Homo sapiens: one gene and its partners. The protein of the gene in region 1 purifies or fractionates together with the protein of each later gene. This does not show direct contact. Each region holds a gene or a part of one and is shown in the gene's direction. Other genes may lie near its edges.

Evidence for each region.
Region 2: the proteins of RNF126 (region 1) and BLTP2 purify together in Homo sapiens (affinity purification with mass spectrometry; 3 studies listed by BioGRID and IntAct, with this or other methods). This does not show direct contact.
Region 3: the proteins of RNF126 (region 1) and KLHL42 purify together in Homo sapiens (affinity purification with mass spectrometry; 3 studies listed by BioGRID and IntAct, with this or other methods). This does not show direct contact.
Region 4: the proteins of RNF126 (region 1) and CAPN15 purify together in Homo sapiens (affinity purification with mass spectrometry; 3 studies listed by BioGRID and IntAct, with this or other methods). This does not show direct contact.

What each region holds. Positions count from the first base shown.
Region 1 is NC_000019.10:660,201-668,098, reverse strand, and holds the start of RNF126 (E3 ubiquitin-protein ligase RNF126), read left to right. Parts: upstream 1-4,884; 5' UTR 4,885-4,977; coding exon 4,978-5,052; intron 5,053-7,898. UniProt on the Homo sapiens protein: E3 ubiquitin-protein ligase that mediates ubiquitination oF target proteins. Depending on the associated E2 ligase, mediates 'Lys-27'-, 'Lys-29'-, 'Lys-48'- and/or 'Lys-63'-linked polyubiquitination of substrates.
Region 2 is NC_000017.11:28,642,147-28,650,008, reverse strand, and holds the start of BLTP2 (bridge-like lipid transfer protein family member 2 isoform 1 precursor), read left to right. Parts: upstream 1-4,850; 5' UTR 4,851-4,952; coding exon 4,953-5,020; intron 5,021-5,821; coding exon 5,822-5,951; intron 5,952-6,349; coding exon 6,350-6,399; intron 6,400-6,697; coding exon 6,698-6,845; exon of another isoform or gene 6,846-6,907; intron 6,908-7,021; coding exon 7,022-7,140; intron 7,141-7,673; coding exon 7,674-7,734; intron 7,735-7,862. Other genes in the region: SDF2 (stromal cell-derived factor 2), read left to right, coding at 733-1,020. UniProt on the Homo sapiens protein: Tube-forming lipid transport protein which binds to phosphatidylinositols and affects phosphatidylinositol-4,5-bisphosphate (PtdIns-4,5-P2) distribution.
Region 3 is NC_000012.12:27,783,227-27,790,243, forward strand, and holds part of KLHL42 (kelch-like protein 42), read left to right. Parts: intron 1-4,812; exon of another isoform or gene 4,813-4,982; intron 4,983-7,017. UniProt on the Homo sapiens protein: Substrate-specific adapter of a BCR (BTB-CUL3-RBX1) E3 ubiquitin-protein ligase complex required for mitotic progression and cytokinesis. The BCR(KLHL42) E3 ubiquitin ligase complex mediates the ubiquitination and subsequent degradation of KATNA1.
Region 4 is NC_000016.10:530,698-537,714, forward strand, and holds part of CAPN15 (calpain-15), read left to right. Parts: intron 1-3,248; 5' UTR 3,249-3,301; intron 3,302-4,618; exon of another isoform or gene 4,619-4,671; intron 4,672-5,331; 5' UTR 5,332-5,445; intron 5,446-5,939; exon of another isoform or gene 5,940-7,017.

The sequences.
Region 1 (7,898 bases):
CACCCGGCCATTTTTTTTTTTTTTTTTTTTTTTTTGTTAGTAGAGATGGGTTTCACCATTTTGGCCAGACTAGCCTCGAACTCCTGACCTCAAATGATCCACCCGCCTCAGCCTTCCAAAGTGCTGGGATTACGGGAATGAGCCACCGCCCCTGGCCCAGTTTGGGGCCTTTACTCTTCCGATCATGGTGCTCGATACTGTTGGGTGGATGGCTGGTTTCAGCAGACGTTTGTGGCACAGGCCCCGCTCCTGGCACAGAGCGGAGGCTCCACGACACTTGATGAAGCAACGGTGGCCCAACCCCTGCCAGGATGAGGGTGGAGGGAGGAACTGTTTCCTTCCTCAGGAGGCAGCCACAGTCCAGTCCCAAAGCTGCCGCCTCAGGCAATCGGCTTCCTCCCTGGGCCTCAGTTTCCTCATTGGTGCAATGGGGCCAGCTGCAGTTATTTCTTCCCAGGGGGGTTGGGAGAAGTGAATACACAACCACTAGGTCTACCTGGGACGTGGTCTGCCTGGGCTTGGTCTGCCTGGGACGTGGTCCACCTGGGCTTGGTCCGCCTGGGACGTGGTCTGCCTGGGACGTGGTCCGCCTGGGCTTGGTCTGCCTGGGACGTGGTCTGCCTGGGACATGGTCCGCCTGGGACGTGGTCCACCTGGGCTTGGTCCGCCTGGGACGTGGTCCGCCTGGGACGTGGTCCACCTGGGCTTGGTCCGCCTGGGACGTGGTCCGCCTGGGACGTGGTCCGCCTGGGCTTGGTCCGCCTGGGACGTGGTCCGCCTGGGACGTGGTCCGCCTGGGACGTGGTCCGCCTGGGCTTGGTCTGCCTGGGACGTGGTCCACCTGGGCTTGGTCTGCCTGGGACGTGGTCCACCTGGGCTTGGTCTGCCTGGGACGTGAGAATGAGCTGTCAACACACCTCTCTGCCCCGGAGGGAGTGGCGCGTGTCATTCCTTTAGGAGTCCTCTCGTCTCATGTTTGCCGAGGCCCCCAGGGTTCACGGGGACGGGATCCTGAATTGAAAAAGGGGCTAAGAGAGCTCACGGAACCAAGCCCACACCTGTCGAGGTCCCTGGTGAGAGGAAATGGGAGAAACGGTGCCGTCTGTGGAACCAGGGTGGCCGGTGGGGCCTGGGGCAGGGTGCAAGTGTGTGCATTTGTGTGCAGCAGTGTCAGTGCCCACTGGCCGATTTGATCAATGTGCTACTGCCTTCAGGGAAGAGCAGCCTGCTTTTTGGTGTGTTTGGGATAAAGGGGTGGCCGGGCACTCTGGCTCACACCTGTGATCCCCACACTTTGGGAGGCCAAGGTGGGAGGATCCCGTGAGCCCAGGAGTTGGAGATCACTCTGGGCAACATAGCCAGATCCTATCTCTACAAAATAAAAATTTAAAACGATTAGCCTCACGCCTGTGATCCCAGCACTTTGGGAGGCTGAGGTGGGCGGATCACCTGAGGTCAGGAGTTGGAGACCAGCCTACTTAACATGGAGAAACTCCGTCTCTACTAGAAGGACAAAAATTAGCCGGGCGTGGTGGCACATGCCTGTAATCCCAGCTACTTGGGAGGCTGAGCCAGGATAATCGCTTGATCCTAGGAGGCAGAATTTGCAGTGAGCCCAGATCATGCCACTGCACTCCAGCCTGGGCGGCAGAGGGAGACCCATCTCAAACAAAACAAAACAAAACAAAACAAAACAAAAAAGATGGGGTCTCCATCTGTGGCCCAGGCTGGAGTGCAGTGGTCCGATCTCAGCTCACTGCAACCTCTGCCTCCTGCTCAAGTGATCCTTCTGTCTCAGCCTCCTGAGTAGGTGGGATCACAGGTGCCCGCCACCACACCTGGCTAATTTTTGTATTTTTAGTAGAGACACGGTTTCACCATGTAGCCCAGGCTGGTCTTCAACTCCTGGACTCAAGTGATCCTCCTGCCTCAGCCTCTCAAGGTGCTGGGATTACAGGCATGAGCCACTGTCCCCGGCCTAATTCTATTTTTGTAGAGACAGGGTCTCACTATGTTGCTCAGGATGGTTTTGAACTCCTGGTCTCAGGCGTGAGCCACCTCGCCCTGCTTAGTTTGATACAAAATCCCTACGTTCCTTCTCATTCCCACTGTGTTTCCAGCACCTGCTTGAGCCCAGCACACAGTAGACACTCGGCAACTGTTGGTGCATTTGGGAATCTACTGAACACCTACTGGTGCGCTGGGTATTGGCCTCACATATGGGGAGACGCCATTAATAACCCACAGATGTGAGGATGGCTGTGGGGGATGGAAAGGGGGCTCTGAGAAGTGGGGTGCAGTGGTGGATGGGGCAGCCTCCTAAAAACCAGGGGAAAGGGCCGGGCGCGGTGGCTCACGCCTGTCATCCCAGCACTTTGGGACGCCGAGGTGGGCGGATCACCTGAGGTCAGGAGTTCGAGACCAGCCTGGCCAACATGGCGAAACCCCAGCTCTACTAAAAATACAAAAATTAGCCGGGCGTGGTGGCGCATGCCTGTGATCCCAGCTACTCGGGAGGCTGAGGCAGGAGAATCGCTTGACCCCTGGAGGCGGAGGTTGCAGTGAGCTGAGATCGCACCATTGCACTCCAGCCTGGGCAACAGAGTGAGACTCCATCTCAAAAAAAAAAAAAAAAAAAAAAAAAAGCAGGGGAAGGAGAGGGGACTTGGGGAAGGGCACAGCCTTGCAAGGCCCAGAGGTGGGAACCTGCTTAGCCCACCCAAGGGGGCCAGTGAGGCTGGGGAGGGGTCAGCGAGGGGCAGGTGACTCGGGGCAGGCAGCAGAGCACAGAGAGGGCTGAGGAGGTGCCAGCGGTCCTCATGTCTGCTCCGAGCCAACGGAAAACCGTCAGGTTCTGCCGCCTTCTCAGAGGTTAGGCCACTTGCCTAGGGACACACAGCCAGTTCGTGGTTTGGCGTCGTTTGAACCAGGCCTGCTGCTCCTCCTGCACTTGCGGAGCGTGAAGGCTGGTGCAGGGGCTGCGTCTGGCAAGCCTCGCCCCTCCCCAGCCTGGGGTTTTCCTGGATTCCCAGGGACGGGGCCCGTGCGCTCTCTGGTGGTCAGAGCAGGAATGACTGGATTCGCGCTGCTGCAAAGACGACTGGAAGGAGGCTGAAGCCCCTGTCCCCAACCTCTGGACATTCAAAACCCTAAATGCAGGCCGGGCGCGGTGGCTTACGCCTGTAATCCCAGCACTATGGCAGGCCGAGGCGGGCGGATCACCTGAGGTCAGGAGTTTGAGACCAGCCTGGCCAACATAGTGAAACCCCGTCTACTAAAAATACAAAAATTAGGCGGGCGTGGTGGTGCCCAGCCTGTAATCCCAGCAACTCGGGAGCCTGAGGCAGGAGAATCACTTGAACCCGGGAGGCGGAGGTTACAGTGAACCGAGATTGCGCCATTGCACTGCAGCCTGGGCAACAGAGCCAGACTCCATCTCTAAAAAACAAACAAACAAACAAAAAATCTAAATGCACAGGCTCCAACTCTTAATTCCTCAACAGTCTCGCTCCAATGCCTCATTTTGCAGGAAGTCCAACTCCAACCAAATCCTATTCATCCCTCAGCCCTGGTTCCAATGTCCTTACCCCTCGGAAGCCCTCTCTCTCTTTCCCCAGGCAGAGCCAGAGTCACCCTTGAGTTCCACGCTCCTGTCCAATCTCATGGGACTGGGGGTATCTGCGTGCATTCAGCATAGGGTCTGGTGTGCAGTAGTTGCTCAATGAGTGTTGAGTGAAGAAAGAAATACACGCATGAGGCCGGGCGCGGTGGCTCATGCCTGTAATCCCAGCACTTTGGGAGGCCGAGGCGGGCGGATCACGAGGTCAGGAGTTCAAGACCAGCCTGGCCAAATATAGTGAAACCCCGTTTCTACTAAAAATACAAAAATTAGCCGGTGTGGTGGCGGGTGCCTCTAGTCCTAGCTACTCGAGAGGCTGAGGCGGGAGAATCGCTTGAACCCTCGGCAGGCGGAGGTTGCAGTGAGCCGAGATCGGGCCATTGCACCCCAGCCTGGGTGACAGAGTGAGACTCCGTCTCAAAAAAAAAAAGAAAAAAGAAATGCATGCATGATTGGGCCAGAACTAACCTCAGAAATGATCCTGGCCTGTGCTGGGTGATGATACCGTTTCTACTGATTAAATTTGGAAGCAGGGGTTAGGTTTCCTGCCTTCTCCGCACCCGAGAGGCGCCTGGGCCGTCAGCCCGTGGAGCATCTTGGAAACAAGGCCACAACCCACAGACCTCAGCCTCTGTCTGACCCCACGGGTCCCAGTGAGGCCCAGACAGCGCCCTGAGCCCCGGGTCTGCCTGTATTCCGCAGCGCTGAGGGAATGCCTGCTGTGTGTCAGGCGCTGCTGCGGGTCCAAAAATCCCTTTGCTGCGCAGCTGACCTGACAGTGCATCGGGAGGGAATCAGTGCCACGGAGCAGGAGGGCAGCAGAGAAGACCTTGTAAGCTGACATTTGAGCAAAGACCTGGAAGAAAGCCACGCGGGCGTCGGGAGAGCGCTGCACCGGGCAGCGGGCGGGGGAGAGGGCGCCTGGCGAGCCCCAGGAACGGTGGGGACAGTGGGCTGAAGTACCGTGAGGGGAGACGGCGATGAGGTAGGGAAGCACTGAGGGACACGAAGGCCTGGGCAGCTTCGGGAGGGGAGGAGGGCCTCGGCCCCGCCCCGCGCACGCCCCGCTTCTCGTCTCTTCCGCCGCCTGCTTTGGCCCCGCCCCCGCCGGAAGCCCCGCCCCCGCTTGGAGCCCCGCCCAACGGCCGGGCCTAGTTTGTCTCTCAGCGGCCACCGTCGCCCGGGCCGCTGCCCGCCGAGTACGCAGCTTTCGCCGCTCCCGCGCCCCCGCTCCGCCCCGCGTGCCGTGCGTGCCGTGCGTGAGCGTGCGCGGGCGCGTCGGCCGGCGAGGGAGCAGCAAACGGCCGGCGGCGGGTGCCGCGCGGGGGGCGGGCGGCGCGGAGTAGGTGGCGGCGGCCATGGCCGAGGCGTCGCCGCATCCCGGACGGTACTTCTGCCACTGCTGCTCCGTGGAGATCGTCCCGCGCCTGCCGGTGAGGCCCGGGCCGGGGCGGCGGGCGGCAGGGTCTGCGCCGCAGGCCTGAGGCAAGGCCGGGGCCGGGGTGGGGGTCGCTTGCGCCCGCCTCTTGCGCGAGCTGACCACGACGGGAAAACTGAGGCTCGGGGCAGCGCCGGCCCAGGCTGAATCCGCGGGGAGCCCGGGCGGTGCGCGCGCGAACCCCGTCCTGTACATGCGGGAGACTGAGGCCCGGGCGGGAGGCAGGGCCTGGCCGGAGCGGCGCAGCGGGATCGCGGCCGGGTGACCCCACATCCGCGGCGTTCCCGACCCGAGAGGCCGCGAGGATCCCAGGTGGGATCCCTAAGCCCGGTGAGCCTGGTTTTGCAAACGGAGAAACTGAGGCCCGGCGAGCAGAGAGAGGGTATTGCCCGGTGGCGCGGCGCGGGGCAGGGGCTGGGCCTGGCGGGGCTCGGACCCCGAGAATAACGCCAGGGGACCCCCGCCGAGCGCGTGGTTGGGGGCGCCGGCGCCTCGCTGCAGGCTCGCCTCGTGGAGCCCTGGCCGCCGCCTTGGAGGCAGGCCCAGGCCCGGAACGCCCCAGGCACTGTCCCGGGGTCCGACCGCGGCCCGCCGGCGGGGCTTTGTGAGCAGAGCCTGCGTTCCTCCCCTCCCGGGGCTTGGCTGCGCAGCCCACCCTTCCTCCAGGTGTTTACAGCCGCCCCTCACCGAAGAGGACCCTGGGCCTGGGCGTGCCGAGTGCTACTTCCTGCTCGTTTAGGGCAGTGTTTCCCACGCGGACCTGATGTCACCTTGGGGGAGGTGGGAGCAGCGCTCGTTGAAGGTGCTATTTCCAGGCCCCTTTTCCAGGGTTTCGGAGTCAGTAGGTGTGGAATGCGCTCAGCAGTCTGCATTTCTAATATTATTTTTAGGAATGGGGTCTCCCTGTGTTGCCCAGGCTGGTCTTGAACTCCTGGGCTCAAGCGATTCTTCTGGCTCAGCCTCCCAAAACGCTGGGATTACAGGTGTGAGCCACCGTGCCCGGCGGTGGTCTGCATTTTTAACCCGTGTTGCCCTTCGCCAGGCTGACGTGCAAAGTGGTGATTTAGTCGAGCCACCCGTGCTTTATAGATGGGGAAACTGAGGCGCGTGGTGGCTCAGCGGGAAAGTGGCAGAGCCGGCTCAGTCGGGAGCCGCTTGGCCAGCTTGAGGGGAGCAGCCGCAGGAGGTGGAGGGGTCTGGACTCCCCACCCTGTGCCCAGGGGAAGAGGCTGCAGGCATTGAGGATTTACTGTGCTGTGTACGTAGCCGCCCGGCTGTTGCTACGCTTTGACCCGTAAGAGAAGTCCAAGCCCCCCAGAAGCAGTGCAGTTCCCCGGGAGTAGAGACCCAGGAAGGGGCTGGAGGGAGTCAGGAGAAGCCGCCTGTCTCTGGGTCACAGAGGAGGAGCGAGTGCTAGAGTTGGGGCATGGCGGGAGAGCGGGGCCAGGCCCAGGAGTGGAAAGAGAGAGGTGTGGTTTCCTCTCTACTGAAGCCACAGGGCTTCCCCTCCCCAGCAGGAGGAACAAATAAAGTGAAATCTCGGGTGTGGGGCGAAGGTTGGGGAGCTGAGACTGAGCCTTGCCTTACTCCTCTGTCTCCCAGGGGTCTCGCTCTTGCCTCTTCCAGCTTTCTGTCCCCACTGGCCGTGGCAGGAGAGGCTGGTTGCCTGACAGCCCGCCAGCCTGGGTGAGTTGCAGGGCAGCCCCTTGCAGCCCCTTGAGCCCTGGGACAGGCCTGGGAAGCCCCTGGGAAGCCTGGAGTGGTGGCTGTGGGGGGCCGACACTGCCTTGACTCGGCTGCACATTTAGCTGCTCCTAGAGCCCGCACAGGACTGGATCCTGGTGTGGTGGAGCCACTTCCTCGCCCCGTGGCCTTGGACACGGAGGACCTTGACCTCCTCCGACTGTCACTGGGCCTGGGGAGGGCCTTCCTGTAGTGAAAGGAACTCTGTGGTGACAGGCCGCTGTGGTCTTTGCCCTCACAGAATTTACAGGCTGGCCAGGGAGCCAGCATGGAACAGTGATTGACAAATATTTAATCATGGACGTTGGTAGATTCCTTAAGAGCAAATAACTGCAGAGAGGGCTGCGGGGGCCTGCCCGTGTCCACCCCGCGGGTGATCCCAAGGGCATCTGCTTGTGCCTTTGGAGCAGGACGCAACAAGGCGCCCGTAGACAGCATGGCAGTGTCAGAACTTCTCCGTACGTGGCAGGACCCTGTCTCTACAGAAGACTAAAACAATTAGTGGGGTGTGTTGTTGCACTCCTGGAGTCCCAGCTACTGGCGGGGGCTGAGGTGGTGGGAGGAGCGCTTGAGCCTGGGAGGTGGAGGCTGCGGTGAGCCGTGATGGTGCCAGTGCACTCCAGCCTGGGTGACAAGCAAGACGCTGTCTCAAAAACGAATTTTTTATGCTGGGAAATGGGCACACCTGGCGTTTGTTCTGGGGAGGGACGGCTGCTCCGTATCTGGCAATGGGGAAAGTCCCCAGCCACAACCAGTGCCCTCGAAACGGGGCGTCTCTGCCGCTGGGGAGCTTGCCCGGCGGCTGAGTCAGGGGCGGCACTGCTGCTGCTGAGACACCTGGGCTGGCTGTCGGGAAGCTCCTGCCTGCCTCTGACGCAGGGGGGACTGGCTGCCATGGGCTGTGTGCCTGCCCACGAGGGCTTCTCCCAGGCAGCTGGGCCGTTCCGGGCCTCCTTTGCTGTCCTGGGCTCTGGGATCAGGCTGAGGCCCCGCGCAGCTGGGTCATTCTCTGCTGGGCAGCCTTGGCCTCAGTCTCCTCACCTGCCAAGTGGGTTTAGTGATGCGATTCGCTCCCCGTGGCATCTGGTGGGCACGTGT
Region 2 (7,862 bases), on another chromosome or scaffold:
TGCACTCCAGCCTGGGCAACAAGAGCGATACTCTGTCTCAAAATAAATAAATAAATAAATAAATAAAATAACAACACTGGAAAGCAGCTGAATTTTTTTTTTTTTTTTGAGATGGGGTCTTGCTCTGTAATCCAAGCTGGAGTGCAGTGGTATGATCACAGCTCATTGCAGCCTTGATCCCCTGGACTTAGGTGATAGCTGTAGTAGCTGGGTACCATAGGCATGTGCCACCATGCCCAGCTAATTTCTTTTTTTTTTTTCTTTTTTTTTTTTTGAGACAGAGTTTTGCTCTTGTTGCCCAGGCTGGAGTGCAATGGTGTGATCTCGGCTCACCGCAACCTCCGCCTCCCGGGTTCAAGCGATTCTCCTGCCTCAGCCTCCCGAGTAGCTGGGATTACAGGCATGTGCCACCACACCCAGCTAATTTTGTATTTTTAGTAGAGACAGGGTTTCTCCATGTCGGTCAGGCTGGTCTTGAACTCCTGACCTCAGCTAATTTCTTTTGTATTTTTTTTAGGGATAGCGTTTCACCATGTTGCCCAGGCTGGTCTCAAACTCTTGGGCTCAAGTGATCTGCCCTGCTCAGCTTCCCAAAGTGGTAGGATTACAGGCATAAGCCTGGCCCCTCTGATTTTTTACTTCAAGGTGGCCTTCTTTTTCTTCCCATTGCCTCCCACCCCTTTTCAAGCCCTTGTCAGCCATGCTGATGTTACTACCTTCTGTATTTTCTAGGAAGTGAGTGCTTTTGGTGAGGAAGGTGAAGGTGATTATCTGGATGACTGGACAGTGCTCTGTAATGGACCCTACTGGGTGAGAGATGGTGAGGTGCGGTTCAAACACTCTTCCACTGAGGTACTGCTGTCTGTCACAGGAGAACAATATGGTCGACCTATCAGTGGGCAAAAAGAGGTGCATGGCATGGCCCAGCCAAGTCAGAACAACTACTGGAAAGCCATGGAAGGCATCTTCATGAAGCCCAGTGAGTTGTTGAAGGCAGAAGCCCACCATGCAGAGCTGTGAATCTAGAGGCTCTGAGCCACTGTTAACGCACAATGTTCACAGACATCTGTTGCTGCCTCACCTTGGGATCCCTGCCACAAGTTCCTTGGGCAGTGGCCATGTCACCATTGAGATGAAGATATACAACAGAAAATAGTGGCTGTGTTTGGAAGCTTCAGCCCTGCACATTTGAACTAGTCACTCTCCCAGACTTGCGTGGGTCAGTTCTTTCTGAGTAGAGGACTTGCTGGTAAAGGGGCAGATGCTTTTTATTAGTACTGATAAAACAAACTGAGGGAAACATCCCTCTTAGCTGGGAAACTTTTACTCTTCAGGAGCTTGGCATCATGGACTGTTAATGTATGTGATTTTCCCCCTATTTTCTCTCTCCAAAATGATAAAAACAATAATTTTATTATGAGTCACTGTGTTGTTATTTATTAGGTGTGCTATTTCATTAGCTGCTTAATCCTTTGAGTCCTAAGACTCTTTGGAGACGCTATGAAGCTCCAATGTGGGCCCTTTTAAGAGCTTTTCTTGCATACAAACCTTTTCTCCCTCTACTTTGACTTCTCTCCAGGCATCTCATCTTTAATAGATCTTTGACTAATTATAGCTAAAAACTCTCAGAGAATACAGCATAATAAATAGCCAGTGAAATGTTTGCTTTGTATCTGTTACTGCAGATGAGAAAAAGGTGTAGGGGTAGAAAGAACGAACCAGTATTTATTCACTGCTAAATACTAGGTACCATATTATAGATCTTTTTTTTTATTTATTGTTTTTTAGACAGAGTCTCGGTCTGTCGCCCAGGCTGGAGTGCAGTGGCGCGATCTCGGCTCACTGCAAGTTCCACCTCCTGGGTTCACAACCATCCTCCTGCCTCAGCCTCCCAAGTAGCCGGTGCTACAGGCACCCGCCACCACGCCAGGGTAATTTTTTTGTATTTTTAGTAGAGACAGGGTTTCACTGTATTAACTAGGATGGTCTCGATCTCCTGACCTCATGATCCGCCCGCCTCAGCCTCCCAAAGTGCTGAGATTACAGGCGTGAGCCACCGCACCCGGCCTATAGATCTTACCTCATTTAATCTTCACAGAATTCATATAGGGTAATACTGCATTTTTATCAGTGCAGCAGTTGAGTAACTGCCTGAATTCTTTTTTTTTTTTTTTTTTGAGACAAGTTCTTTGCTCTGTCACCTAGGTGGGAGGGGCACAATCATGGCTTATTACAGCCTTGACCTCCTGGGCTCAAGTTGATCCTCCTGTGTCAGTTTTTGATTTATCGTAGAGATGAGGTCTCACTATGTTACCCAGGCTGGTCTGGAACTCCTGGGCTCAAGTGATCCTTATGCTGTGTCTTCCCAAAGTGCTGGGGATTACAGGAGTGAGCCACCATGCCTGGCCTACTGCCTGAATTCTTTTTTTTTTTTTTTTAAGATGGAGTCTCACTCTGTCGCCCAGACTGGAGTGCAGTGGTGCAATCTCGGCTCACTGCAACCTCCGCCTCCCAGGTTCAAGTGATTCCCCTGCCTCAGCCTCCTGAGTAGCTGGGACTACAGGCACCCGCCACCACACCTGACTAATTTTTGTATTTTTAGTAGAGATGGGGTTTCACCATATTGGCCAGGCTGGTCTTGAACTCCTGACCTTTTGTGATCCGCCCACCTTGGCCTCCCAAAGTGCTGGGAAAACAGGTGTGAGCCACCGTGCCCGGCCTGAATTCTTAAAACTAATAAATCATTTTGGAATAGGAATCCAGCTGTTTCTGACTCAGGTTTTTTTAAGTGCACTACGATTGTGTTTAGCTTTTGGAAAACAAATCCTGTTTTTTGGACAAACGTAGATATATCTCTCTAAAAAGGTGGATAGAAAACTACTTTTGTCCTCTGCCTACCTGATTTCCTCCTTTCCTGTGTCAATTGCAGAAAATTTGCTCCTGTAGCTTCCAATCATGGTATTGGTGAACGGAGATGGCTGCCATCTGCTGGAATTTCAGTGACTAGCAGGCTTTTTTTATTTTTAGAAACTTCCGGGTTTTGTTCTTTTTTTTTCTATTTGTTTTGTTAATGTTGAACATTTAGAGACACCATTTCTGTGCCAAACATGGCCCGTGACGTTAAAAGACTTGGTCTCTTTTACAAGGGCTTGTGGTCTCAATAAATGGAGGCCATGAATTAGTTGAGCCCCACTGTTGCCTCAACCACCCCCCACCCCCGACTCCCTGCCTTTATTCCACTTCACTTGTGTTGATCCCTTAAGATCTCTCCAGAAAGAAATAGACAAATCATAAAATCAACATTTTAGGCTATGAGATGGCTGGGAGTAGGGCCGGTAATAGTCAAGGGAGAAGGAAGGAAGTGACAGGAATCTTGGTTCAATAAACAGATTGGATAAGATGAACCAGAGTAGGGATACGTGTTGCACGGCACCCCTCCTTGACTTGGACAGAGGTTTTCAGTGAATTGGGCCTTCCCAGAGCATTCGGAGGACATACCCTGGGGGAAGGCTGCAGATGACGAGGAAGATGACGCAAATACAGTGCTTGAGAGGTAAGTATGACCTTGAAACAGCAGCGCTGGAGCTCTTGGGGAGATGTGAAATCACTGAAGAGAGGAATAGATAAGGGAGGAAACAATCAGAGGAGTGAAAGCAACTTCGGGCAACACACAGGTGAAAGATGAAATGGTGTTTTATCTGAGGGAGCCAAAAAGAGAGGCTCTGAGTAAAATCTTGAAGGATATATATGGAGATTAGGACGTGGGAGCGAAGGGGTATGAAAAGAGACATGACCTCCTCCATAATACTTATTTTGAAACCGTCAGGATTTCCTTAGCTTGTGCTGTATCAGTAGATCATCATTCAGATACTGATCCTTAGCACAGTAACGCTGAGGGACCTTTGTCCTGTTCTCTCATTTTACAGAGAAGGAAGCAGGCAAAACTATGTATTGTCTATTTTATGTAATTATGTTTGCTTCCCAGATAAACTACACAGAAGGAAGCAGGCAAAACTGACTATGTATTGTCTACTTTATGTAATTATGTTTGCTTCCCAGATAAACTATTTTTTGCTAAAGGGCAAGAACAATATTCACTACTTCTGCAGTATCTCCTCCTCTCCTCCATCAGGGCCCAGTTCGTGCCATAAGTAGATGGACCAGAACAGTGTTCAAACAGTAAATGAAGTAAAAACTCATTGGCCAGGAACCGTGACACGCGTCTTTAGTCCAAGCTACTCAGGAGGCTGAGGCAGGAGGATCCCTTGAGCCTGCAGGAGTTCGAGACCAGACTGGGCAACGTAGCGAGTCCTTGTCTCAAAGAAAAAAAAAACAAAACCTCATTAGTTTCCTCTGTGGATGGAATGAGGCGAGATTTTTGAGGCCTTTTAATTACCTCCTAGTTTCTGCCTCAGTAATTTTCAAACAGGATCTTGAATAAGATGGGAGTGCTACCACGTCTGACCAGGGGTGTAACTTCCGCAGAACCCTGAGTCCAGGCCTAAGTGGCTAGGCGGACTCCAACTCCCCTCAAAGTGAGCTCCCCGGACCGAAATGAGTCAGCCAGGTCCACCGCCAGCCCAGGTAGTGGGCCCGGACTCCGACCCCCGCGGGTCCCCGAGCCCCGCGGTTCCGGGCACCGTGGTGTGCGCCCGGGGCGTGTTTCAGCTCTTGGTCCGCTCCCCCTCGCCCTCCTCCCGGAACCACGCCCGCTCCTCGCGCACGCAGCCCGTCGGCCCTGCAGCGTCGTAGGACAGGGCGGGACTGGGGTGGGAGGCCGTTGGTTGGCTGGCGGGCTGCGGAAGGCGGGGCTCGTGTGCGCACCAGCGCGTCCTCGCTCAGCGTTGCTCCTGCGCGCGCAGCTGGTCGGCCCGCGGCGGTGCTGCGCGGATCCGGCGTCGGGGCCCGGCATGGCGGGGGCCGGGGCCAAGCCGGGCCGGACCCGGACCTAAATGCCTCTGTTCTTCTCCGCGCTGTTGGTCTTGCTGCTAGTTGCGCTTAGCGCCCTCTTTCTAGGCCGGTGAGGGTTCCCGGCCGCGCCGGCGGCGGCGGCGGCGGCGGGAGGGAGGGGGCGGAGAGGAGGAAGAAAGACTGAGGAGGGGGCGCGCGCCTTACTGAGGCGCGTGAGGCAGAGTGGGTAGGGTGGAGGGAGGGGGCGCGCGGCGAGGGGAGGGATCGTGAGGAGGCGCGTGGCCCGAGCTCCCAGGGATGGGCTGCGAGTTGGGGAGACTGAGGAAGCGGGCGGGGTCTGAGGAAATGCTGAGGCCAGGAACTGAATAGGAGTGTGAGGAAGGGGCCTGGTTCAGTGGCTTCCCTTTCCCCCTCCACCCACCCCTGCATGTCCCTTTCGCCAAGCGCGATGGGCACCTGCAGCATCGGTCTGGGGAGAACAGCATTCGAGCTGCCGGGTCTGACCTCAAAGTGCCTTCTCGTGGATACCTGTCTGGAGGGTGGGAGCAGGAGACAGACAGACCCTCTGGGGAGTGTGATGGCACATGTGACAGAGCCGCCTCCGCTTTGACTCTTGCTGGGGTCTTCTCTCTCTGCCTCTGGGATTCATAACAATTTGAGGGATTTTGTTTTTGTCTTCAACTTAGAGGGTGCAGTTTCTGGTTTCATCTGGGTGGAGGGGTCAGTCGGGAGCTAGGATCTTGATCAGCGTGGCTGAATGTATATGACAGAGTGGTGCTTTGGAAGAAAGGAGAGTTGCTCAGATCCAGTTTCAGGAACGACCTTTTGCAAGGCTTTGAAAGACCAGCAAGGGGTGAGGGAAACCATCATTGGAAAAAGGTCCTATGAATTAACAGGAATTTTTCTGCAGGTGGCTTGTGGTCCGGTTGGCCACCAAGTGGTGTCAGCGGAAGCTGCAGGCGGAGCTAAAGATTGGCTCCTTCCGCTTTTTTTGGATCCAGAATGTCAGTCTTAAGTTTCAGCAACACCAGCAAACAGTGGTGAGTTCTGGGAAACTCTGGATATGTGTGTAGGGTTGATCCAATTGAATTTAAACTCTTAATTTCCTTTTTTTAAAAATAGAAATCCTGGTGGCTTTTCTAGTTAATCCCAGCCTTGCCATTTCTTTGCCAAGATGATCTTAGAGCTAGTTGGAGAACGCTGCAAGTTGTTCAGTTAAAAATGTTTGTAGGACACAGAGTGTCCAGGGCACATAACAAAGATACAGAAGAAAGATAACAGGAAATCGAAGATTTTACTGTTCTAATTTAAGATGGGATTCAAGGCAACATGGCTATGAAAGAGAAATTCTAATAATCCAGAACATTTCCTGGCTTGTCAAGCTGCTCGTGGCTTATTTAGCAGCTAGCACACAGAGCTTTCTCCCTCACTGTTTTAGGAAATTGATAACCTGTGGATTTCCAGCAAACTCCTTAGCCATGATCTTCCGTGAGTACCCTATATTCTCACTTCTCCCCTAGAAGAGTACTTTGGAGTTGGTGTTTGCAGAGTGACACTCTTCTGCAGAGGCATCACAATCCAAGGAGGAAGGGAGGTTGTTGCTGAAGTCTTCCTGTTAGCCTGGGTGCCATTGTGTTGTGAGGAAGATATTGATAACTGCTATGAAACTAATCTCTGTGATTTGAGCTATATTTCTAGGAAGGATGAGAAAGTGAATGTGAGGGTGGGGAATAGACTGCTATGGGAGGGATGGACCTGGTGGCAGTGAGATTTCTCTTCTGGGCAGACACTATGTGGCATTGTGCTTTGGAGAAGTGCGTATCAGAACGGACCTACAGAAAGTTTCTGACCTGTCTGCCCCATTCTCCCAGAGCGCTGGGGTGGATCAAAAGGAACTGTCCTTCAGCCCATCCTTATTGAAGATCTTCTGCCAAGTGAGACAACTTCTCCTGCTATCCTGGACTGTACTTTGGCATGGTTGGCTTTGGAGTTATGGGTAGATTTTTCTGTTTTTAGGGCATAATGCTAAGAGCTGCCCCTCTTTCTCATCTGGAAAGGAAGGGCAGTTCCTTAACATTAATTATTGTTCATCCTTGCTTCTTCCTTCCAGCTATTCTCCATTCATGTAGATGCTATAAACATCATGGTTCTCAAGGTGGATACCTCTGAGTCCTTATGGCATATTCAGATCAGTAGAAGCAGATTTCTTTTGGATAGTGATGGGAAAAGGTAAGCACTGGGGAGCAGAGGATCTAGCCGTCCTATTCTTGCCTCAGAGTTGCTTCAGGGCCTCCTTATCAAGGTGTTAAGTTCTCATTCTGTGCAGTTGGAGGAGATGCTAAGATTAGACATTTCCAATTGCCTTGTCCCTTCTAGCCACCAGAGCTTGACTGGAGGTAAGTGGTGAGGAAAGGGACCAAGTTCTCTTTTTTTTAAATTTTTTTTTTGAGACAGAGTCTTGCTCTGTTGCCTAGGCTGGAGTGCAGTGGTGCGGTCTTGGCTCACTGCAAGCTCCGCCTCCTGGGTTCAGACCATTCTCCTGCCTCAGCCTCCCGAGTAGCTGGGACTACAGGCGGCCGCCACCGCGCCTGGCTAATTTTTTGTATTTTTAGTAGAGATGAGGTTTCACCGTGTTAGTCAGGATGGTCTTGATCTCCTGACCTCATGATCCTCCCACCTTGGCCTCCCAAAGTGCTGGGGTTACAGGCGTGAGCCACCGCGCCCGGCAAGGCCAAGTGCTCTTAATTTTTTTCCTTTCCCAGGCTAATCTGTGAGGTGAGCTTATGTAAGATCAACAGCAAAGTTCTAAAGAGTGGTCAGCTGGTAAGTATGCCATGATCATTCAGATGCCTCATTTCCTCCTGGGCGTAAAGTGTGAAGGAGCTTAGGGCTTACATCCTAGGTTCTTTGACCTTAGGGGGTTCCCTCAAGTCAGTACCCAGTGTTCCAGA
Region 3 (7,017 bases), on another chromosome or scaffold:
TCATCCTTATCATCTTGACGCTGAGTAGGCTGAGGAGGAAAAGGAGGTAGAGGAAGGGTTGGTTTTGCAGTCTCGGGGTGGCAGAGGCAGAAGAAAATCTGAATGTAAGTGGACCCTCACAGTTCAAACCCGTGTTATTAAAGGATCAGCTGTATAAGTATATTGATAGTGGTTAACAATAGGGGAAAAGTGTTTATGTATATTAATGTGCACGGGGGTGTATCACCTTACACATTTTAAAAATTCTGAAATTGTCTAGGTTGTACTAATTATTATGGCACTTGATATTTCCATTTAACCATATCTGAGAGTTTTTTTTCTGTGTCAACAAATGTAGATCTACCTTATGCTTTTTTATTTTTTTATTTTTTTTGAGACGGAGTCTCGCTCTGTCGCCCAGGCTGGAGTGCAGTGGCGGGATCTCGGCTCACTGCAAGCTCCGCCTCCCGGGTTCACGCCATTCTCCTGCCTCAGCCTCCCGAGGAGCTGGGACTACAGGCGCCCGCTACCACACCCGGCTAATTTTTTTTTGTATTTTTAGTAGAGACGGGGTTTCACTGTGTTAGACAGGATGGTCTCGATCTCCTGACCTCGTGATCCGCCCGCCTCAGCCTCCCAAAGTGCTGGGATTACAGGCGTGAGCCACCGCGCCCGGCCTTACCTCACGCTTTTTAATGGCTGCGTGGCATTCCAGCCTATGGATGTACCATAATGTAATTAGCCCTTCCCTTATTTATGGACATTTAGGTCACTTCCATTTGCATTGGATGTTTCAATAAGCACTGCCATTGAACATCCTGGTAGATGCGTGCATGTATCTTAGTAGCCATATGTGAGTTAGTTTCATATGTCAAATTCGTGGAATCCCTGGATAGGTAGGGCAAAGTGTATGTGTTTTTTTTTTTTGTTTTTGTTTTTTTTTTTTGGGGACGGAGTCTCGTTCTGTTGCCCAGGCTGGAGTACAGTGACGCGATCTCGGCTCACTGCAAGCTCCGCCTCCCAGGTTACGCCATTCTCCTGCCTCAGTTTCCCGAGTAGCTGGGACTACAGGTGCCCGCCACCACGCCTGGCTAATTTTTTTTTTTTTTGTATTTTTAGTAGAGAAGGGGTTTCACCTTGTTAGCCAGCATGGTCTCGATCTCCTGACCTCGTGATCCGCCCACCTAGGCTTCCCAAAGTGCTGGGATTAAGTTGTGAGCCACCGCGCCCAGCTGTGTATGCATGTTTTAAATTTTGTTGAAGCTGGGTGCAATGGTTCACGCTTGTAGTCCCAGCTACTTGGGAGGCTTAGGCAGGAGGATCACTTGAGCCCAGGAACTGAAGGCTGCAGTGCACTCTCATCGGGCCCGTGAATAGCCATTGCACTCCAGCCTGAGCAACATAGTGAGACCTCATCTCTATAAACAGTTAAAAATAAATAAATAAATAGATTTTGGTTGCTCCCGCCAAATTGCCCATCAAAAAAATTGTTCTGATTTCCTCTTCCATCAAAAGTGTTTGTGCTTGCCAGTTCCCTATACTCTTGCCAAGATAGAATATTATCATCTTTTTTTCCCCAAACCTAATGGGCAAAAACACTAGTGTGATTTTTCCCAATTAGAAGAGAGATTATTCTTTTTATATGTTGGTTGGCCATTTGTATTTCTTTTGTAAATGGTCTTTGCCAGTTTCCTAAAAATTGGCTTATTTTCTTCACATTCATTTGAGAAGTTCTATGTGTGAATACAGATATTAATCTCTTGTCTGTTATGTAATGTCGTGCATGTTTTCCCATGCTGTTATTTTTTCTGCAGTGTTCAAAAATAAGATCCCAAAGTGACTGGGTAGGTGAAATTGTTGCATAGAGGGGTGGGTGGGAGTTATGATGAAGCTGAGAGCTATCGCCCCACCAAAAGAGGGCTCCACCTCTCAACCATGGCTGGTTACTTCTACGGGGAAGGGAGGAAATGTTGCCAGACATCCAAATATCCCTTTATTTTTTCTTTTTTAAAGAAATGGGGTCTTGCTTTGTCACCCAGGCTGGAGTACAGTGGTGTGATCATAACTTACTGCAGCCTTCAACTCTTGGGCTCAAGCAATCCTCCTGCTTCAGCCTCCCCAGTAGCTGGGACTACAGGCATGCAACACCATGCTTGGTTAATTTTTTAAAATTAAAATTTTTTCTTTTGTAGAAATGGGGGCTATGTTACCCAGGCTGGTCTTGAACTCCTGGCCTCAGGTAATCCTCCCACTGTGGCCTCCCAAAGTGCTAAGATTACATGCCACCATGCCTGACCCTCCATTATATCTTCTAATTGATTATTGATGCTGTATTGGAAATTGTACCCTTCTTTAGTTCCCTCTGCTTTGACTCAGGTATGACATATCTCCTAGGAGTTCCTTCCCGAACTCTGGCTTGGGCTGAGTGTTCCGTGTCTGCTCCTCTAGCATCTCATGCACATTCCCCGACTTGAATTGAAATTCTCTGTTGTTGTCTCTCTGCCTTCCGATCAGGAACTAGGACTTACTCAATGCTTATGTATAGCCCTACTCCTAACAAGATGTCCAATAATAATAGGTGCTTAAAATACGTGTTTTCTTTAAAAAAAACTATGGAATATATTTTTACATTATTGTAATAAAAGTTAATGTATAATTTTATATTTCGCTTTATTTGTAACACTATAGTGAACATTTTTACCTTGGTAACAGTCATTATATTTATTTAGAGTAGCTGAGAAATAATGAGAGACATCATTTAATTGAACACTTAACTCTGCAGTAGGTACTGTTCCCGCTGCTTTGCATGAATTATCTAACTTATTCTTCACAAGGGCTGTTAGGCAGGTTCCCATTCTAAAGAGACAGAAAGTGAGGCACAGAGAAGTAAATTGCTCAAGGATGTGTAATAAGTACAGCAACCAAAATGTAAATATCCATTGAGTAGTTATAACCACTTAAATTGTTTATAAGTTTTGGATTTTAGACTTGCAGGGACCATCTTCATGCACATTTCCCCCCTTCTTTAAAAAAAATTATTTCCTTCTAAAAAATAGAGCACAGATCTTTTGTGGTACAGTGCTACTTTTCAAAATTTCATCATGTGTGCCTCAGCTCCACGACAGCCTTTAAGCCCAGCATTCTTCTAGTCACTGTTGGATGTACAGAAACTGATGACGTAATTGCTGCCCTCAAGAAGTTTAAAATTGAGTTTAGGTGATGAGACAAGTAAAAATGAAACCTAGCACAGAGTTTTTCCTGGATGAGGCATCCAATACAGGTTATGCATGCACTGGAAGAAATTTGGAACCTTGAGAAAGAAAACCAGATTTTGGCCTCTGGCTATGCAGAATTTCACATCTACTTTGATTCACCTTTGTCGGAGACTGCTTTGGGATGTATCAGTATTTTACTTTGATAAAGGGGTCAAATGTAGAGCAGTTCACTTTTCCCAGGGACTGAATAGTGCAGTGATCCAGAATCTTAAATAGCAGGAACTCTGGGATTGAAAGAGTTTTTTTTTTTTTTTTTTTTTGAGACAGAGTCTCGCTCTGTCGCCCAGGCTGGAGTGCAGTGGCCCAATCTTGGCTCACTGCAAGCTCCGCGTCCCGTGTTAACGCTATTCTCCTGCCTCAGCCTCCCGAGTAGCTAGGACTACAGGTGCCCGCCACCATGCCTGGCTAATTTTTTTTTGTATTTTTAGTAGAGATGGGGTTTCACTGTGTTAGCCAGGATGGTCTCGATCTCCTGACCTCGTGATCTGCCTGCCTTGGCCTCCCAAAGTGCTGGGATTATAGACATGAGCCACCGCGCCCGGCCAATTGAGAGATTTTATAAAGCCTTCTGCACTCTGGAGAAGATAGTGGGTGCTATATGACCATCAGAGGGTAAAAAAGAAATGTTTTGCTCTGTAGGCCAAGTGTGCAACACTGCCTGATGGTCTGAACGTGGGTTTGATCTCACAAATTGTCAGGATGTAACTCTTCACACATAAAAGCTTGTGAGACCTCTAGGCACGGCGGCTCACACCTGTAATCCCAGCACTTTGGGAGGCTGAGGCAGGCGGATCACCTGAGGTCAGAGGTTCGAGACCAGCCTGGCCAACGTGGTGAAACCCTGTCTCTACTAATAATACAAAAATTAGCTGGGCATGGTGGTGGGCACCTGTAGTCCTAGCTACTTGAGAGGCCGAGGCAGGAAAATCGCTTGAAACCGGGATGGGGAGGTTGCGGTGAGCCAAGATCAGACCACTGCACTCCAGCCTGGGCAACAGAGTGAGACTTTGTCTCAAAAAAAAAAAAAAAAAAAGCTTGTGAGATCGAGGGTGCTTGCTTTCCCTTTAATCAGTGATAACTTGCAGGAACTGACCACTGTTGCAGCAGTTGGTTCATTAAGGTTCTCCATTTCCAGAGCTTTCTCTAGTCTTTTCCATTGCCCTGCACTTTAGCTCTGAAAATGGAGTTGGAGTGAGTCCTCCTGTTCCATGTGTGAATACAGCAAGGCTGAGAGAGAGACTTTAATAAACAAGTGTCTCCTGGCAGAGATGGAATTGCAGTTGTCAGCCTTAGCGTTTGCTGAGCTGTCCCTTCTCCTCTCAGCCAATGTTTACCATTTTTGGAGCATTTCTGTGGTTGATGTTGTAGTAGAGCCTGGGAATAGTGCAAGAAAGAAAACTGTACGTCTATTCACACTCCCCCCCAACTCCCCATTTAATTTTGGCCAACAGTTTAAATTGCTTTTTGCATCTTTGCTTTTGGAGTTTCTTAGAGCTGGGCATAGGTTGCAACAATGACTACCTCTATTTTCTAACCTTTCCCCTTCTCCCCTTCCTAGTCCCTAGGGGAAGTTAATGCGTAGGGACATGGCAGAAGGCAAGTAGATGAAGGGGAAAGAGGAGACAAAAGGACCTGGATGGCCCACAGACTTAAGCAGTCGTGTTCTGAGTGGTTGAGAAAGGACTTTTGAAAGGATCTTGGCATTTTGTTCTAATTTTTACTCTGATGGTAAGCAAACTTCTTTCTCTACATAGGGGGTCATAATGATGGTTTTCATTTCTTGAGCTCTTACTCTGGGTCAGGTATTGTAGTCACAACTTGAGGTGTCACTTCATATTAATGCTCACAACATCTCTGTGAGGTAGATGTTATTAATCCCATTTCCTTAAAGTGGAAACTGAGGCTCAGTGAGTTTAATTACCTTCCACATAATCACAGGGCTAGACTCGAAGCCACCCAGACCTCTGTGTCATCTTGCCTTCCTATGGTTGTATGTAGCTACTGTTAATCCTTGAGATCTGCGTGCTGGTGTTAAGCATGTTTCATGTTACTTAGCTTTTAGGGGTTTAAAGAGCTTTTTAAGCCACGCACGGTGGCCTAGCTACTTGGGAGGCTGAGTCAGGAGGATTGCTTGAGGCTGGGAGTTCAAGGCTGCAGTGAGCCATGATCAGGCCACTGCATTCCAGCCTGGGCAATGAAACGAGACCCTGTCTCTTAAAAAGCTCTCCTTTTAAAAAAAATTTTTCTTATAAGTGACCTTGAAATTCAATTGTGGTTTTATCCAATTTTCTCACTTAAAACAGAAATTCTAATGATAATATTTTTATTTATTGCAAGGAACAAGTATATAGCTATGATAGATGACTTGTTACTTGGTCTTGAAATTCTTCTTTTTACCTCGTGAACATAGTGTGTTAAATTAAGAAAACACTGTAGAGATGATAATTTTGAAAAGTAGTTGATAGCTTGAATTTATACCTTTACCATTCAGGAGGTGAAGAGTGGAAGAATTATTTTCAGAAAGTTGGAAATGAAGCAGTAAGTGATGAGAATTTGTGGATGAGAGAGCACAAAACATCACAGTCAGTGACTGTTGCAGTTGACAAATGAGAAACCAACGCTCCCAAGGTTAAGAAAAACTTAGACTTAGGACACCCAGAGAAGCACTCCCTAGAATGCCAATGGAGAAAGACTTATCTCTGCAAGTGCTGTCCTTTTCAGCTCTTACTGCATGCCAGATATTGTGCCCTTCTTATCCCTACTTAACAGATGAGAAAACTGAGGAACAGATCAACAGATTCAGTAATTTGTCTAAGGTCAGACAGCAATTGATGTGTGATGTCTGAGACTTCCCTGTGTAAGCCTGGACTCATAACCTTTAGCAGTATGCCTCTTTATTAAATGGTCTGTTTTTAGGTGGCAATTTCATCTTAAAACAAATTCAGCATTAAAAAGTGTTTCTCTTCAAGTGAATTTGAGCGTGTTGGGGTCTGGAGAGATGGAATCATTTACTTTAACTGCCTATTCATTGGTCTCAAAAAGAAGCCCCTTACATGTTTGCTTAGGACAAATGATTATGCTGGATAAATACTAAAAACTGTTTTGATCTTACAAAATTTACTATCTGTGTACCTTTGGGGAGCAAAAACAAATTGCGGCTGGGAAAATTTAGTGCTTGTTTACAAGCTTTATTTCCTTTGGTTCCCCAAATTTGCACACACAGAGAGGGCATCATGGTTGGATTTTAAGGACCATTGGCAGCAAGAAAGGTAAGCAGCAGGAATCAGGGACCCCCCAGTACCTGCCACCCTGACGTCTGTTGGCACAAAAAAGTGGGCTGGCTGGCTGGCTGGCTGGCTTTAAGGGACAAGACGAGGCTCTTGATGAAGAGTACTCTATTCACGCTCTGATTGGAAAAACAAACTAAAACACATTTAGATATAAACATGATAGGAACCTTTAAAAAATCTTAACTGTTTAGTAGGTGCCTATTACTAACCTAGTTTCCATAGTGTAATGCATCAGTTTTATTGAACACTTTTTAGGGGATCAAGCATGGGCTTCTTGTTTACTGCTTCTTCTTAATCTACTCCCTTATATAAGTTTTTTGTGTGTGCATAGCCTCTACCTCCATTCTTTCTTAGTATATTATTATTTTTGAAGACATCATTGTGTTGGGGTTGGATGTGGTCTTGAAATTCACTTGGTCTAGCACCTTTATTTCAAACACTAGAAAACAGAAATTTGAATGATAGTATTTTAT
Region 4 (7,017 bases), on another chromosome or scaffold:
AGGGGCTGCTGCTGGGCCCACAGGGTGCACGGAATGGGGTCTGTGGGAGGATGGGGGCATCCTAGCCCAGGGCAGGGACCCCGTGGGCCCCCCAAGATGAGCTGCGTCAGGCTGTTGCTTTGCACACTCTGAGGGGCCTGCCTGAGTGCTGCATGGGAAGCCAGCAGTGTGGCCGCCCTCCCCAGAACTCATCCAGGGCACCAGGGTGGACCCATGAGTCCCGTCGGGTCATGGGCATCAGCCTCGCCATCCTGGCCTCCAGATACAACGATTTGTCAGATTCCCTGAGGTCAAAGGGAAGCTTCAAGGGTTGCCATCCCCGCCTCCCTGGCGGTCCTAGACGGGATGTCAGGAGGACGCAGGGCCATCGCTGCTTTTTAAATGTCACAGTGACTGCAGCGTCTGCTCCTCTGTGGAAGGAGCTTGCTCCGCTAATGAGGGAGTTCCTCCTCATGGCCTTCCCCTCACTTCTCTTCAAAAAGTTGCCCTTTATTTTAACATTTTTTAAGTTTTATTTTTTTGAGCCAGGGTCGTGCTCTGTTGCCCACGCTGGAGTGCAGTTGCAATCATAGCTCGCTGCAGCCTCAAACTCCTGGGCTCAAGTGATCTTCCTGCCTCAGCCTCCCAAATACTGGGACTACAGGTGGGCGCCACCACACCCAGCCTCTGCCCTTTGTAAGTGAAGTCCCCCAGGCAGGTTGAACCTCTTACACCTTCTGCCCCTGCCTGATCCCCACTCCCTACCCCCCACCTCCCTGTCCCCTGTAATGAGAAAGGCAATAAGTTTTGGAGCTTTCTGGAGTTCCTGCCCCTCCTGAAAAGGTGGCTGCAGAGAGGCTGGAGCTGATGGGGAAAGAGGTGCCACGAGGCCTCCTCTGGGTTAGGGCCACACGGCTCCCAAGGCCCCCGTCTCCTTCTCTGGGGTGACAGGTGCCCCCAGGGCCACACGGCTCCCAAGGCCTCCGTCTCCCTCTCTGGGGTGACAGGTGCCCCCAGGGCCACACGGCTCCCAAGGCCTCCGTCTCCTTCTCTGGGATGACAGGTGCCCAGGGCCACACGGCTCCCAAGGCCCCCGTCCCCTTCTCTGGGGTGACAGGTGCCCCCTGTGTCCCAGAGGCTTCTGCTTGGCCACCAGTGAGGTCACCGGGCTGCCCAGACCAGGGCTGCTTCTGCCACCACATGGCAAGCAGAGAAGTAGAGAAGTGCCAAAAACCACGAGTGCTTGTCTGGTCCTTTTTTCCTGTTAAAAATAGAAGTCGGGGCTGGGTGCGGTGGCTGACACCTGTAATCCCAGCCCTTTCAGAGGCCGAGGCAGGTGGGTTGCCTGAGGTCAGGAGTTCGAGACCAGCCTGACCAAAATGGCGAAACCCCATCTCTACTAAAAATAAAAAAATTAGCTGGGTGTGGTGGTGTGTGCCTGTAATCCCAGATACTCAGGAGGCTGAGACTGTAGAATTGCTTGAACCTGGGAGGCGGAGGTTGCAGTTAGCCGGGATGGCACCACTGCACTCCAGCCTAGGCGACAGAGCTATACTCCGTCTCAAAAAAAAAAAAAAGAAAAAAAAGTAGAATTCGGTTGGGCTCAGTGGCTCATGCGTGTAATCCTAGCACTTTGGAAGGCCAAGGTGGGTGAATCACATGAGGTCAGGAGGTAGAGACCAGCATGGCCAACGTGACGAAACCCCCATCTCTACTAAAAATACAAAAATTAGCTGGGCGTGGTGGTGTGTGCCTGTAATCCCAGATGTTTGGGAGGCTGAGACACTAGAATTGCTTGAACCCGGGAGGCAGAGGTTGCAGTGAGTCGAGATGGCACCACTGCACTCCAGCCTAGGTGACAGAGTGATACCCTGTCTCAAAAAAAAAAAAAAAGCCAGCCGCTGTGGCTCACGCCTGTAATCCCAGCACTTTGGGAGGTCAAGGCGGGTGGATCACCTGAGGTCAGGAGATTGAGACCATCCTGGCTAACACGGTGAAACTCCATCTCTGCTAAAAATACAAAAAAATTAGCCGGGCCTGGTGGCAGGCGCCTGTAGTCCCAGCTACTCGGGAGGCTGAGGCAGGAGAATGGCGTGAACCCAGGAGGTGGAGCTTGCAGTGAGCCGAGATCACACCACTGCACTCCAGCCTGGGCAACAGAGCGAGACTCTGTCAGAGAAAAAAAAAAAAAAAACAGGTGATGCCTGTGCCACTGGACACACCTGCACACCATCCTCATGCTGATCACAAAAGAGGGTGAGGGGCCGGGCATGGTGGCTCATGCCTGGAATCCCAGCACTGGGGGAGGCCGAGGCGGGTGGATCACCTGAGGTCTGGAGTTCGAGACCAGCCTGACCAACATGGTGAAACCTCGTCTTTACTAAAAATACAAAAATTAGCTGGGCACGGTGGCGGGCGCCTGTAATCCGAGCTACTTGGGAGGCTGAGGCAGGAGAATAGCTTGAACCTGGGAGGCGGAGGCTGCAGTGAGCTGAGATTGCACCACTGCACCCCAGCCTGGGTGACAGAGCGAGGCTCTATCTCAAAAAATAAAATAAAAAATTTAAAACCAACAAAAAAGAGGGTGATGGCTGAGTGAGGAGTCCATGGTGGGCCCTACACAGGGCCCAGGAAGGACAGGGCGGGAAGCGTGAGCATCCTGCCCACCGCAGTGGGTCCGCCATGGAGAGCATGACCTTAGAGAAGCAAAGCCGCCTGGCTCGAAGCAGTGGCCGCCCTGCTGACAGCTGTAGTGGCCGGGTGGCACTCGGGCTGGGGTCCGGGGGAGTCTAGGTGGCCACCTGGCTGTGTGCCTGTGCCTGCCCAAGCTGGGCACCTTTCCCTGGCAGTGCCTGGGAAGCTCGGCCGCCCTCCCTGGCTGGTGCTGCTCTGCAGCCCCGCTCATGGACTCTTGCCCACGGCCTGCTCCTTGTAGCAGGGTCGGGCCGTGGGAGGTCCGGACAGGATCTTGAATGGCCCTGTCTGCGGTCCTGGCTGGCCGGAGGTTGACCGCACTGGACAGGTCAAGGGCCTTAAACCAGGGTAGTGAGGAGCCTGCTGAGCCCCTGCTGCTCCCCGGGCTGCCTTTGGCGCTCGGACAGACACCCAAGGACAGAAGCTCGGACAGCTTCTAAGGCGAAGGGTCTCCCGGGGCTGATTTCCCGGGACTCTGGCTCCTGCAGAGAGGGCTGGAGGCGGGGCTCTGTGTTCCAGGGTCAGAGTCCTCCTGGTGGAAGCTGAGGTGCCTGATTAAATGCCTCCCTTTCTAGGCAGCAGCCCAGACGCGGCACAGAGAGGGCCTGGGAGCTTGCTGCAGCTTCAGGTGAGTTTGTTCCCAAGCCCTGCGGCTCGTTTATGGGTTTGCTTGCGCTGCAGAACTGTTTGTGGAGCAGCAGGGTTGGAGTGCCCACGGCTGGGGGGCCTCTCGGAGCCCTTGATTCACAGAACCCCTGGAGGCCGGCAGCCCTGCCTGCCCTGAAGAGCCTCGTTCTCCCAGCCGTTTGGGCCGTGGTCCTGTCGTGGGAGGCGACGGTGAGGGCGGCCCGGGGTCCCGACAGGGGTGTTTGTCCCTTTGGGGACCTCCCCTGTGCTGTGGCCCCGGCCCCCAGATGGAGCTCCCCATCCCCACGGCAGCGCTGGGGCTGGGGCTGGTGAGGAGCCTGTGCACGGCCCCCACCGCTATCCTCAGCCAGGAGGGTGCCTGGTCCCTGGGGAGCGGCCTGCACCTGTTTCTGGAGAATGCTGTCCTGCCAGTTGTCATTTGGGGCGGGCGGTCGGAGTCCACGTCCTCCCCCAGGGCGGGGCCCTGGCCTTGTTTCTTGTAGGGACGATGGGAAGCCCTGTCCTCAGCCCTCCCACCCGACTCATGCAGGAGCTTCCTGTCCTTGGGGTCATCTCCTCCACAGGGGCCTTAGCGTCAGTGGGGACAAAGGCAGAGTTGCCTGTCTTCAGGTTGTGGGCACCGACTGAGCTTCGTCCCGGTAGTGGCTGGCTCTTGTTTCCTGCCTGGACCAGCAGCCTCTGGTCTGGTGGGTGCAGTTTTAGGGCGCAGTGGGGTTGCCGTGGGGCAAGGCCAGGCCACCAGCTGCCTGGACACAGGGGCCCCCGCTTTCCATCTGCTGCCCCCCACACCCCCAGCTCGGGCAGGGGTGACACCGGGGCATCCTTGTTGGGGTCGCTGTGGTTCCCATGGTGGCAAGATGGCTCTGTGAAAGATTGACGGAGATGTAGGGCCCAGGAGCAGGTGCTGTGTGAGTGGGACACGCCTGTGTCACCTGCGGGGCAGGGGAGGGCTCGGGGGTACAGCCGTGTACATGATTAGTTAGCGAGACAGTGAGGAGTGTATGCGGAGTGGACACAGCTGTGGGTGCCGCCCGCGCAAGGCTGGGGGTCGCTGTGCCAGCCCTGCTCCCATGTGGGCTCCCAGCTCCCCAGGTAGGGACGCTGACCCCGGGAGGTGCCTTTGCCTGCATCCACTGGAGCCTCAGGAGCATGCGTTCCGTCCCCACGGGTCACCCCCACTGAGCCCACCACCTACCGAGAGGCACCTCGAGACCCTGTCCTGCCACGGGTGGGCTGTCAAGGCCAGCACCAGAGACCCCCAGCAGACCTCAGTGGCCGCAGATGGAGCGGGGCGGCAATGGTCACCTCCGGGACTCAGCCCTGTGCTGAGCCCCGGGCAGTGTGATCATCCTGGCCCTTCTCGTGCACGTCCCCTGGCTGGATGCTCCTTGCTGCCCTCACGGGGTGTGTGTGTGGCATACAGGACAGGGACCGGCCAGTTGGCCCTGCTCATTAACCACTTGTCCCCACAGGGCAGTGGCGGCCTCACCTCTGCAATTCTCTGAGGCTGGATCTAGGCCACCGCCCCGTTTAAAACTAGGGCATCGGCTCCCAGGGAGGGCGGGGAGCTGCACAGTTGGACTTGTGGGGGTCAGGCATGGATCCACACAGCCCGGGGCCCTCCGCACCCTGCCCCTCCAGGGAGCCCAGAGGCGGGCGTGGCTGCAGCCTGGCTCTGTGGCAGTCATGAGTCACGGCCACTCTTGAGGCGCCGCCCTGAGAGTCAGCCCTGTGGTCACGGCTCCTGCTGGTTCCCATTCGCGAGCACCTGAAACAGCCTGGCCCACAGCAGAGGCCCGGGGGGCACATGCAGCTCACGGGAGCAGCACAGATGCTTGGCCGGCGGCAGGCCCTACAGGAGCAGCAGCGGCCCAGGGCATGTCCCTGGGGTCAGGGGTCAGAGTTCGGCATGCTCTGCGGGGGCCTCACCCTGCTGTCCCTCGGCCTGGCCTGGGCACACTCCTTGGTGACAGTGCCCCTGCACGCCCCCCCCCCCCCCCGGTTATTCAGACAGGGAGCCAGGATGGGAACCACGGACTGACCTGACCTGCGTCCTCGGGGCCACTGCACTGGGTGATTCACGTGTGCCCAGGCCCTGAGGTGGGCCGGACCTGGGAGTGGCAGGTGAGCGTTCCTCCCAAGAGCCTCTGGCTGGCCGCAGCAGGCCCTGTCCCTGCTGTCCTCAGTGGCCCTGGACATGATAACCCCCCTGCCGAGGTCTGGCCGGAGCCAGCACCCACGGCCGAGATGCAGTCAGCCCTGGCTGGGCGCTGTCCCTGGGGGTGGCTGCTGGTGCTGCCCTCCCTCCTTCCCACCACTTCTTGCTCCTCTTTCCTGGGGCCCTCCCATCGGAGTCTTCCTCCTAAATGCAGTTCCCTCCCTCTAGGGGAACGCGGGCTGGGAGCCTATTTTTTTTTTTTTTGAGACGGAGTCTCGCTCTGTCGCCCCGGCTGGAGTGCAGTGGCGCGGTCTCGGCTCACTGCAACCTCCGCCTCCCGGATTCAGGCCATTCTCCTGCCTCAGCCTCCCAAGTAGCTGGGATTACAGGCGCCCGCCACCACGCCCAGCTAATTTTTTGTGTGTTTTTAGTAGAAACAGGGTTTCTCCATCTTGCGCAGGCTAGTCTTGAACTCCTGACCTCGTGATCCACCCACCTCGGCCTCCCACAGTGCTGGGATTACAGGCGTGAGCCACTGCACCTGGCCTGGGAGCCTTTTCCGTAGCTGCTCATCCTGTACTAGCATCTGTCCATCATGAGTGGACGGAACACAGGGGGACCCAGGACCCACAGCTGCACTCGGGAAGGCCAGCAGGGTGGATTTCGGGAAGAGCATCGGTGCCAGTTTCCCACAGTCACCCTTGCGATGGGACCCTCAGGTTGGCACGTGGCTGGCAGCTGTGTCCCGGGAGCTCTTGCTCCTTAGTGGGCCTCGCCAGCCAGGGCAGGGCCCCCGGCACCCCTCACGGGGCTCTTGACTCCTCTGGCAGCGGATCGGGGCGGTTCAGCGATACCATCTCTGGAGATCCCCTGGCGTGTGCTGGAAAAACCCCGGAGAGGGCTTAACAGAGCCAGCTGTCCAGCCTCTGTGACAGGGACGTTTGCTTTTCTCTGCAGGGTCCTCTCTTCTCTTCCGAGCACCCACGGGAGGGGACTGTGCTGTCCCTGCTCTCCTAGGACAGGCCTCCCTCCTGTCCAGATGGGGCCCACAGGGTCAGTTGCCTGAGACTGGCTCCAGCTCAAGAAAGGTTTTCTGAGTGAGCGCAGGGGAGCAGGAGGCTGGTGAGCAGCTCGCTTCCTGCCCTGGGTGCAGCTGGGCACCACTTCTGCCTTGGGCCTAAAGGCATCAGTGAGGAGCAGGCGGGGCCTGGTAGGAGCCTGTGTTTCTAGCGGCACGCGTGACCCCAGGTGCCACGTGGGTGAGTGCGTGGGTGGGTGAGTGGCGAAGGAGCTGAGGTTGGCCCTGGCAGGTGTGCAGTCCTCACACAGAACGGGCAGGGCTCCTGTCAGAGCCAAACCAGCTCAGGGCCCAGTGCAAGCAGCTTCTGTCCCGTGGCACCTCCGCTAGTCGCCGCTCCCACCCAAGCCCTGCCCCGCCCTGACCCGCTCAGGGTTTGGCTACAGAAGGGGAGTGTCGGAAATGCCCAACCCGTCTCCCGTGAGGGACTCCTGCGTGGCCTGGGCTGGGGAACGCAGGG